Linked DNA regions of Homo sapiens. The protein of the gene in region 1 interacts with the protein of each later gene in a pairwise test. Each region holds a gene or a part of one and is shown in the gene's direction. Other genes may lie near its edges.

Region 1 (3,750 bases):
CTCTTTTGATGCAACTTACTCATGGTATCTGTACAGTAAGTGTTTATGTTTTCACATATTTGAAAATCTGTGAGATTTCCCAAGATTGGCAAGCACAATGTAGTATGTTCTTCAGCCTCATTCAGCAAAATAGGAGTCTTCAAAAGACAGTCCTGGCCGAGTGTGGTGGCTCACGCCTGTAATCCCAGCACTTTGGGAGGCCGAGGTGGTTGGATCACCTGAGTTCAGGAGTTCGAGACCAGCTTGACCAACACAGTGAAACCCTGTCTCTACTAAAAAACAATACAAAAATTAGTCGGGCTTGGTGGCGCATGCCTGTAATCCCAGCAACTAAGGAGGCTGAGGCAGAAGAATCGCTTGAACCTGGGAGGCGGAGGTTGCAGTGAACTGAGATTGCACCACCGCACTCCAGCCTGGGTAACAAGAGCAAAACTCCATCTCAAAAAAAAAAAAAAAAGTCCTACTTTACGCTTCTTTTAATAAGGCTAAAAAGATATGTGGCCAGTCTCTTAATTAAATGCAGTATGACAGTGCTTCCTTGAATCATATTAATCCATATTGGAAGTAATCTTATGTCTGCTAGTCACATGGTGAAATCTGACATCTCACAAAATCTGGTCCTGAATTTTTATTTGTCTTCTGCATGTCTCCACTGAGTTGTGAGGCCTCACATGTGTCACTGCCAGTGTGTTGTGAGTTTTTTCCACACAGCCTTCAGCTGCTTATTCCATTCCACTGTAATCCTTATATTTAGTTATGATTGTCCTCAAAATTACCTACAAATTTGACTCATCTATTTCATATAGGAAATGCTATATCGCTTAAAAGTTTTAAAAGCCTTTAAAGAAGACTAAGTGCTTAAAGGCTTTGTTATTCTTAAAAGGTTAGCCAGTTTTCAGAAGGAAAACTTCTTCAGACCAGCAAAGTGTTTTTTGTGTGTGTTTGCAGTATAGGTGGGGCGGCGGGGTATCGTATGTTTAGTAAAATCAAAAGCTTTTGAGAGATCAAGTCCTTGATGTAGAAAAGTCAGCCTTCAAAAAACAGTACTGTCCAGGTAGATAATCTTAATTGTGTCAAAGAACACTATGATTAGGGAAACAAAGTGTCTGGTAAACAGCCTCTACAAAGACAGACTTTGTTCTAAGTGAGAGTTAAGGAAGAAAGAATATAAGCTTTTAATTGATATTTGTTTTCCTTCAGCCAGTGGGCTGTTTACTTACAGCAAATACCAAGTGATTGCAGGGGTTGGAAGTGATAGATTAATTTACTCACTACTCACTGTATTAAATTGTATACACCAACCTGGGTTTTTTTGTTTGTTTTTGTATTTGACTAATTGTTTCTGACTTTACAATTTCAGTCTTGGAACTTTGCCTTCCCGGCTTCTTTGGTTTACAGGGTTGAAAAAGAAAGCAAAAGTATCTAACGACCTTTGTAAAACATCTTTTAAGTGAGAACCTTTTTCATAAGGCAGTTGTTTCCTCAGTGGGTAGATGGTTTTTCCTGTAATCTGGCATTGTGTAAGGAAATAAGAAGCAGCTTGTCTTTGATTCTTGGTGTGATGGCATGAAAAGTAAATGTTCTGGTGGGATCCCCAAACGTGTTAGTAGGCCGCTATATTATAGCTGTTGTTTATTAGATTAGTATCATTTGAGGGGCTTTTCTGTAGAAGATTTAATTTGAAGATTTATCTTTCAAATATACTTTGGCTTTTTCACTTTTATTTTTTAGGCTGTGCGTGTTACAAAACCCAAAATCCCAGAAGCCATAAGAAGAAATTTTGAGTTAATGTGAGTAATATGCATGGGATCCCAATATTTCTGTTTAGGGCTGTCTGCATATTAATATTCCAGTCTAGAGGAAACATGTGAGACAATACACTCTGGGGTGGAGTATGTGTCTTATCTTCTTTACTCTTACTCTAGTAATATTGCCTATTCTTGTGTCTTAATTCCCACTAGACTCTTACTAGTGTTCTCTTTATGTATGGACATTTCAGGAGCAGTTTCAGTGGCTAAAGATGCAGTTTGCTGTAAAACTATTGCTGGAAGCTTAAGGAGCTATAATTTTATATGAATAGTACCTTGAATTAAATATTTAATAGAGGAAAGAGTCCTGAAGCCGTTAGGGTTGAAGAGAGTGCTCATATTTTGTTTCTGTGTTGTAATGGTAGGAATAGATACCTTGTTGGTATAAAGTTTGGTTTTCCATTGTATGTGATTGTATATCTAAAATTAGACCTGGTTCTTTATAATGTGCCTCTAGGGAAGCCTTGCTTCTGTTGACTCCTGGTAGTCTTCTCTTTTATGTATCCAGGGCTGACTGGGAATGAGAAGACATGAAATTAGTTTCTGACAGGATCCCTTTTAGGGGAATACTTACTGTGTTTGAAATGGCAATATTGTTTTCGTATGACTGGTACTGAAAAGAAGAAATAAAAGTCTTTAGGAAATTTGGCTGATGTGTTAAAAGGGAAAGTATAAGACGCTGGAAAAATAAATTTGCACAAGTCAAGGATACCACAGATGTATAAATACTGGAAGTCCAAGGAGCAGTAATACTACTTTATGAGGTTGTTTACTTCTGAGTCCTTTTTGTTACCATGCAGATTTTTATTGTTTTTTTCTTCTTTTATATTTTCCTTTTCCCTCATACCTTCTCTGAGCTCATACAGAGTTTTATTTCTCTTTTTCTTAATTTTTTTTTTTTTGAGACAAGGTCTTGCTCTGTTGCCCAGACTGCAGTGCAGTGGCACAATCACGGCTCACTGCAGTCTCAACCTCCCAGGCTCAAGTGATTAAGCGATCCTCCCACCTCAGCCTCCTGAGTAGTTGGGACTACCAGTGCATGCCACCACACCTAGCTAAATTTTGTATTTTTCATAGAGACGGAGTTTTGCCCTGTTGCCCAGCCTGGTCTCAAACTCCTGGGCTCAAGCAGTCCTCCTGCCTTGGCCTCCCAAAGTACTGGGATTACAGGCTTGAGTCACCACACCCAGCCTGTTTTCTCTTTTTCATTGTAGACAAAGAACTCTTCTTTTAAAAGTATAAAATGTAGACTGCCAGGCTGGGTAGATTATGGATGTGATCCACTTATTGAAAAAATATTTATAGGCGGGCTGTGGTGGCTTATGCCTATAATCATAGCACTTCAGGAGGCTGAGGCCGGCGGATCACCTGAGTTCAAGAGTTTGAGACCAGCCTGGCCAACATGGTGAAACCCTGTCTCCAGTAAAAATAGAAAAATTAGCTGGACATGGTGGCAGGCACCTATAATCCCAGCTACTGGGGAGGCTGAGGTAGGAGAGTCGCTTCAACCGGGGAGGTAGAGGTTGCAGTGAGCCGAGACCACGCCATTGCACTCCAACCTGGGCAAAAGAACGAAACTCTGTCTCAAAAAGAAAATTTTATTAAACTGTCAGCATGTCTTAGGCTTTAAATATGATTGCTTAGGCTGGGTGCGGTGGCTCATGCCTGTAATCCCAGCACTTTTGGGAGGCCAAGGTGGGCGGATCACGAGGTCAGGAGATCGAGACCATCCTAGCTAACACAATGAAACCCCGTCTCTACTAAAAATACAAAAAATTAGCCAGGCATGGTGGTGGGCGCCTGTAGTCCCAGCTACTCGGGAGGCTGAGGCAGGAGAATGGCGTGAACTCAGGAGGCGAAGCTTGCAGTGAGTCGAGATAGTGCCACTGCACTCCAGCCTGGGTGACAGAGTGAGACTCCATCTCAAAAAAAAAAAAAAAAA
Region 2 (3,750 bases), on another chromosome or scaffold:
GAGGCTGAGGTGGGAGGATCGTTTGAGCCACGGAGGTTGAAGCTATAGTGAGCTGTGATTGTGCCACTCTACTTCAACCTGGACAACAGTGACATCCTGTCTCAAAGGAAAGAAAAAGAACAATGGACAAGGGAATTCCTCCCAGATAGCAGAATCAGGGTCTAGTTGGGAAATTCCTCCCACCTCCACCCCAGCATCACTTCAAAACTGCTATAGACCAGTGTCTGCCATGTGTCTCCCTTTTCCAAAAGGGAGATGGTTACAAAAACCATGGTCATATTTAACCACTGCATTTTAGTGGGGAGAGCAACTAGTTTGTCTTCTTAGTCCATAGGGCTCTGGACCACGAGGAACCACAGCCAGGCCTGATGGAGAGAACTGTGCAATCCTGAGAAATGTTCTGTGTTGCACTAGGCACCTTGACAAAGTGTCCCCCTTGGGGTGGGGAGAGTGTGTTCTCCATGTGGGATCAAGAGTGGAGCAGAGATCTGGTCACCAGAAGAGAGACTACGGTAAGTGCTGTTCCTTTTCCACTAAGCCACTTCCCTTTCCTTCTAGACACAGAACTAAACTACACTCCCTAGCTTCCCTTGCAATTAAGTGCAGCCATGTAGTCGTTGAGTGCCTGGCCCATAAATTCCTCCTGCACTGCCTCTCTTCTTTCCCCACCCACTGGCTAAATGCGGAGAATTCAGAGGGCCTAAGGAAAAAAACCACAACATGGAAGAATTTTAGGCTGCAGCTTGCAGAGAGCTGCCCAAAGGAATCGTCTGACTAGAAACCGCTACACAGGACTGTGTGAGCAAGAAACATGCAACTGTTCTATTGGGGTGAATTGCTACAGCACTTAACCTACCTCCACTAATATAAATTGTTTAACATTTTTTTGAATTACAAAAGCAATACAATACAAAACATTTAAACAATGCAGAAATAATAAAGTTTTTTATCCCTACCTCCTCTCCCTGCTGTGCCAACCCTAGGGGATAATCAATGTCACAGGATATCCCCAGGAATATCCATGTACATACATGCACAGAACAAGTCAGGGAAAATAAACTAAATTTATTATTTTAGTGAGATTCTAGTGCACCTAACACTAGGTAAGCACTTCAGGAAAAGGCAGTGACAAGTGATTGCTAAAGATACCATAGTCTTAAAGTTAAGTCAGTAAACACAAGATAGTAATCCCAGATAAACTGGAAGCTGTAGAGTTAATACTCCTTTACTGGTACAGAGCAGTGTGTGTAAATTGTAGAAAATTTAGAAATACATAAAAAGATGAAAACTCTACTACTCGAGGAGTACCACTGATAAAATCCTGTGCATTTCCGTTTTTTTAATGTACATACGAATATTTTTAAAAAGAGAAAATTACTCCCTTCTGATTAGAAAAGATCGAAATTTTTCTCTTTTAGTGATAATCAAGTCAGAAACTTGCTGTTTGGCTCGAGTTAGGAAAACCTAGCCTGGTAGTTACCACGCAGGTTGAAAGGCCAGTGGGGCATAATTAACGAGCCCTCAGGGTCCACGCTCCCGCCCTCGGAGCTCAGAACCGACGGGAGGTGCAGGAGGCCGGGCATTTCTACAGCCCTGGTTCGTTCCTAAACTACTGAATCTTTTAAAGAGATCTGAGTGCTCCTTATACACAGCTGCTTTAATTAAAATAACCACCTGAGCCCTTTTCCTCCGAACTCCACATGCGCTCAGTTCTCAAAGCGCCGATCTCAAGCGGCCGCCCGGATGCTCCGGCCCGACTTGTGCCCCGAATTCCCCTGGAGACCCTCGCACTAGCACGGCGTCAGGAGGAGGCTTCGGGTGACGAGACAGCGGGCAACGGCTCTGGTCCAGAGCGCGCGTGTCCGCCGTTGGAAGCGGTCACGGCGGAACCCTCAAATCGCCCCCTTTCCTAGAGACCTCAGCGGAGCCGCGAGCAACCGCGCAGCCCCCGCGCTCCAGCCCTGCGCCCTAGGCACACGCCCCAGAGCAGCAGCTCGGGTTCGGCGCCGACTCCGCGCCGAGACCAGCCCGCTAGGGGAGGACTCACAGCACCCAGCTCCCAGGAGGGCACGCAGAGGACTACCGAGCCACACTCCGCCCCACGCTCGCCGCTATGGTTACTTGCCAGCCGACCCACGCGAGCCGCTATGGTTACTAGCCCGCCGCCCCTCGCGCCCACGCCCCTTTCGCTATCTCGCGACAGCTGGAGAAGCCTCGCTTCCGGCCGGCTCACTTACGGACCTAGCGTCACTTCCGCCTCCGGCGAGGCTCCGGCCTCGGGTCCGGATGTATAAAGCGCGGCCCCCTGCGGGGAGTGGTGGTGAGTCCGAGGGTGCCACAGCGGCCCTGCCCCTGCCCCTGCCCCTGCCCTGAGTGGGCGCCGCGCTACGGGGGAGGGGTTAACCCACCCCTCCTCCCCGGGGCCTCACGCGGGTGGGAAGGGACAGTCCCAGCGACAGACCAGGCGCCTGGACGCGCCGTGGACCCGCGTGCGGACGGCGGGGACAGGCTCCGGTGCTGAGCGCCTCCGGTGTCCCCAGCAGCACTGACCCACTTGCAGGCCCCGGAGCTGAGCCGCCAGCCATGGCCGCTCCCCGCGGGAGGGCCGCGCCCTGGACGACGGCCCTGCTGCTGCTCCTAGCCTCGCAGGTCCTGTCTCCGGGAAGCTGCGCGGACGAGGAGGAGGTCCCCGAGGAGTGGGTGCTCCTGCACGTCGTCCAGGGCCAGATAGGCGCCGGGAACTACAGCTACCTGCGGCTGAACCACGAGGGCAAGATAGTCCTCAGGATGCGCAGCCTCAAGGGAGATGCGGATCTGTACGTCTCCGCCAGCAGCCTGCACCCCAGCTTCGACGACTACGAGCTGCAATCGGCCACCTGCGGCCCGGACGCCGTGTCCATCCCCGCGCACTTCCGGCGCCCAGTGGGCATCGGCGTCTATGGACACCCCTCCCACCTGGAGAGCGAGTTCGAGATGAAGGTGTACTACGACGGCACGGTCGAGCAGCACCCGTTCGGCGAGGCCGCCTACCCCGCCGACGGCGCAGATGCCGGCCAGAAGCACGCTGGTGCCCCGGAAGACGCCTCGCAAGAGGAGGAATCTGTTCTCTGGACGATATTAATTAGCATTTTGAAACTGGTACTTGAAATTCTCTTTTGAGTCGTTGACCACACTCTGGGATATAAAACCCTCCATCTGTGAAGCTGATTGCAGTTTGCTGTGAACCTTGCTACTTGTACTTGGTTGAAGTTCTAGGTACCTTTAGTCAAGGGATGGAAAAATAAAGCCATACGCAGTTTTGTTACCTCAGTTACCCCAAAAATAGGAAAAGCAGCAAGCACAGTATTTTAAAGATCATAATTCCTATAAAAGGACTGTGCACAAAGTGTTTAGACTCCATTTTCATTAGGCAGGTTGACTAAAAATGATTGCAGTAACAGGTTTATATAAAATAGAGCAACCTTTCATGCTGTGACACAAATCAAAAGGTTGATAACTTTGTAATTTTACTCTGGAGATTCTAACCGAAGTTGGTGTAAGTTTTCAAGAGTTACTAAAATCAAGTTGGAAATGATTTACGTACACTTCCCTGAGCCTGGACTAAAGCCTCATGCCTGTACCCCAAGTAGGTGATGGTACTTTTCTATACAAAAAGGATTTCCTGGCAGGCAGGTATTTACAAAGTTTGTTCCTGTACCAGTCCAATAATGACAACTCTAAATCCAGCTGCACCAAATCTTAGTGGGCCAT
Region 3 (3,750 bases), on another chromosome or scaffold:
TTTGGCTTACTTGTAGTTTGTAATGTTTCAACAATAAGTATGGATAATTAACAAGATAGGGATAAAAAGATAAGTAATAGGATGGCTTACTCGAAACCAAAGCAAACACTGATCAAGCTTATTAAATAATAAAGTTACTAAAATGAAGAAGGAACTGAAGATCTTAAAAAAAAGAAATCACATAACTATATATGATTTCCAGTGATTTTCTGCCACCCTGTGGGGAATTCTGCACATTGCAGAACTGAAGAAGCAAAGTATGAAACTACAAAAACTTCTGTAAATCAAGATGAAATTTCTTGGCCCAAGTAGTTGTTTAGCTAAAGCTCTGTTGATCAGTTTTGTTTTCTCTACTAGCTATTTAGTGAAATTGCTAGACTAGGATAAAAAGAATACCTAATACTTAAATGTGATTACAATATGACAACCAAGGTCCTAATACATATATATGAATTCATCTCACAAAAACCCTATAAGGTAGGTACTATTTTCTTCCCATTTTATCAAAGAGACGGACTTTAATCTACCAATGGTGGGTAAATGTTGCCAAAGCAATGTGAAATCCAGGCAGAATGCTGCATTTTTAGTCAATGATTTAAAATTTTGAGCTTTTCTGTTCCCCTCAGGCCTGATCGTACCCCAATGGAATCACCCAAATACTTGATGCTGAGCCTTTCTATGGATTTATCAGATGAAACTTTGGAAAGGGACTTTTTTTTTTTTTTAAGACAGGGTTTCGCTGTCACCCAGGCTGGAGTGGAGTGGCGCGATCTTGGCTCACTACAACCGCCGCCTGCCAGGCTCCAGAGAGTCTCCCACCTCAGCCTCCCAAGTGGCTGGGACCACAGGTGCATGCCACCAAGCCCACCTAATTTTCTTCTTTTCTTTCTTTCTTCCTTTCTTTCTCTTTGCTTCTTTTTCTTTCTTTCTTTCTCTGTCTCTTTTTTTTTTTTTTTTTTTAAGAGATGGGGTCTCGCCATGTTGCCCTGAGGTCTGGCGATCTACCGACTCGGCCTCTCAAAGTGCTGGGATTACAGTCATGAGCCAGCACGCCCAACTGAGAGAGACTATGATGTTCTCCAAACAAATCTCATTTGGTTGAAACTCTACAGCTGAGTATGGTCTAATTTGAGTAGTTTACCTTGAGTACTCTAACCATGGTCTATAGACCTGGGCTCTTCTGAGAACTGTTTGCAAATGGTTCACAGAGAGAGAGTAGAAAACTCTATGTCAATTTTGCAGGTAATTTTATGGCTGTTAACTCTAACGATAAAAAGTTTTGACTTGGACTTTGTATGTCTTTTCATTTTTCTGTTTTATTAACTTGTCAAAAACTAATTGAAAATTGAAAAAAATAAACCGACCGTTCCCCCAGTGAAGAGAAGCACTGCTGTAAAGCTTTTCACACTCAAATATTACCAAACTCTAAGGTCGCTTCTGAGGCCTAACTCCCCAAAATGATGCCTCGGATATTTTTCCTCGCCTTATTTCTTTTTTTTCTTTTTCTTTTTTTTTTTTTTTCCTTTTTCCTTTTATTTGAGACGGAGTTTTTGCTCTGTTGCCCAAGCTGGAGTGCAATGGCACGATCTCGGCTCACTGCAAACTCCAACTCCGCCTCCGCCTCCGCCCTCGCCTCCTGAGTAGTTGGGATTACAGACGCGCGCCACCACGCCCAGCTAATTTTTGTTTGTTTAGTAGAGACGAGGTGTCACCATGTTGGCCAGGCTGGTCTCGAGCTCTTGACCTCCGGTAATCCACCCGCCTCGCCCTCCCAAAGTGCTGGGATTACAAGCGTAAACCACCGCGCCCGACCTCCTCCCCTTATTTCATCCATTTTATAATTCACATTATTGATCGCTGATAATTGCACCTATTGTAATGATACTGATAATTGCACCTGTTGTAATAATATTGATATTGATAATTGCACCTATTGTATTACAATATTATTATTGATATCGATAATTTCACCTACTGTAATGATCAATAAAGGCAGGCAGAAAGAAAACAAAAGTAACTGAAACTACCAGGCAGCGTCCCTGCGAACAGCAAAGAGGGAAGAAACGCCTTGAGGCGTAGTAACGCCACCAATAAGGAGTCGACGCGACGGGTCCGCCCACAGGCAAGGAAGGCCGACCCCGCGAGTGCAGGCGCGAGCGCTAGCCCGTGACGTCTGAGGGGGTTGGGGGGATGCTGTGTGGGTTTCAAGAAGACGCCACGCCTCCGCCGCCGCCACGCCCCCGCCGCCTCCACCGCCGGCTGCCGCGCCCGGAGGAGGTCGGGATGTTATCACTTCCGCCGGGGCTTCTCACTGTGTCCGGGTCAGCTGCTGCCGCCGACGCCGTACCGCTGCGGCCGGGGGATTGGGCCGGGGTCTCCACCGCCGACCGAGGGGAGCGGGCTCCGCTCGGCCCTGCTTTTTGCGACCTGGCCGTCAGCCCCACGTCGCCGGCCTGGAGGGGCGAAGAGGACGAGGGGGCCAAGGCTTCCTCCGGGGTGAGTGCGGCCTGGGAGAACTCGGCACGGTGGCTCCGGAGCTGGACTGGGAACCGGCCTAGGGGCGAAAGTCTGTCGGGCGCGTGCCCACGACGTCCGGGGAGAGGAAACCCAGAGAGTTACCCTTGGTAGGGGGAGCCATAGAACCTGCTCGGGAGGTGCTTCCTGGATCCCCGCCCTGCTTAGGTCCCCGCCCTTGGCTTGGGTCCTGTTTGTATTTGGCAGTTTGGCCCCCCACCCCGTCGCTTTTCCGTTTCTGGTAGTTGTGCTCGGGATGGAACCTTGCCCCTCCTCCGCTCCCCCACCCTTTTACCCTGGTGTGGGTGAAGTGGCTGGGCTACGATGGTTCAGTATTTATGACCAGCGTCCGTCCTGGTACAGAACAAAGAAACTTGGACTTCTGGTATGCCTCGTAACCGCGGGGAATAGACACGGAAGCAGCATAAGTAATCAGGGCTTTAATAGATCTTCCCTAGTACGCTAAACCAAATACAGAGTGTGTACGTCAAAAGCCGAGTCCCCGCGTGAATCTAGACACAACCCTTTCTGTTTAAATACCTGGCAAAATGGTTTGGATTTCTGGATGCATTTCATGCCGCTGGAGAGTTACTTGTCTGTGTCTTGTGAGCTCTTTGACGAAACAGCTTTTCCGGTGTTGCATCAAGATAGTTACGGTGCCTCCTATTTATTTAATTGAATAAACTATGTGATTGCATTTTAGTGTTGCTTTTTTCATTCTCACCTTCTCTTGATTAGGATCTCTATTTCACCTAATACCTGATTTCGTATTTTCAATTAAATGTAGTTTTTCTAACATTTTATAGGAATCTCTGCAATTGTAGAAACAAATTCTGTAATTTGTAAATGGATGTTTCCTCAAAGTTACAACTGACCTTACCCAATTAAGTTACCCCTGCAGACTAGTTTCTTGATCATTTTGCACATATTCTTAGTTCTTTTTGGTTTACATTTTCTCTAAACTCTATTCCTAGTCTTCATATTCTCTAGTGCAGCCTAATACTGCTGGGCTTAGACCGGAAGTATGACAGATCCACTTCTGCAAACGGAACTTGAACTAGATTATCATAAGTCAGTGCTATTATGGTCTTCAGGCATTACAAGCCCTTTGAAGCTAAGTGCGGCCAAATCAGGCATTACAGGCTTCTTCTGTATAAAATTGCCAGTGCACTGGAGACGGTGTGCTGTATTAGAAACAGTTCCGGACTAGATATGGGGACCAGGATGTAGTGTCAT

Evidence for each region.
Region 2: the proteins of ERLIN1 (region 1) and C6orf120 interact in binary tests that used the Homo sapiens proteins (3 or more experiments, as listed by UniProt).
Region 3: the proteins of ERLIN1 (region 1) and BNIP2 interact in binary tests that used the Homo sapiens proteins (3 or more experiments, as listed by UniProt).

Annotation. Positions count from the first base shown.
Region 1 is NC_000010.11:100,165,388-100,169,137, reverse strand, and holds part of ERLIN1 (erlin-1), read left to right. Parts: intron 1-1,731; coding exon 1,732-1,790; intron 1,791-3,750. UniProt on the Homo sapiens protein: Component of the ERLIN1/ERLIN2 complex which mediates the endoplasmic reticulum-associated degradation (ERAD) of inositol 1,4,5-trisphosphate receptors (IP3Rs).
Region 2 is NC_000006.12:169,699,877-169,703,626, forward strand, and holds the start of C6orf120 (UPF0669 protein C6orf120 isoform 1 precursor), read left to right. Parts: upstream 1-2,249; 5' UTR 2,250-2,286; coding exon of another isoform or gene 2,287-2,320; 5' UTR 2,321-2,560; coding exon of another isoform or gene 2,561-2,583; coding exon 2,584-3,159; 3' UTR 3,160-3,750. UniProt on the Homo sapiens protein: May be involved in induction of apoptosis in CD4(+) T-cells, but not CD8(+) T-cells or hepatocytes.
Region 3 is NC_000015.10:59,687,881-59,691,630, reverse strand, and holds the start of BNIP2 (BCL2/adenovirus E1B 19 kDa protein-interacting protein 2), read left to right. Parts: upstream 1-2,310; 5' UTR 2,311-2,496; intron 2,497-2,704; exon of another isoform or gene 2,705-2,899; intron 2,900-3,750.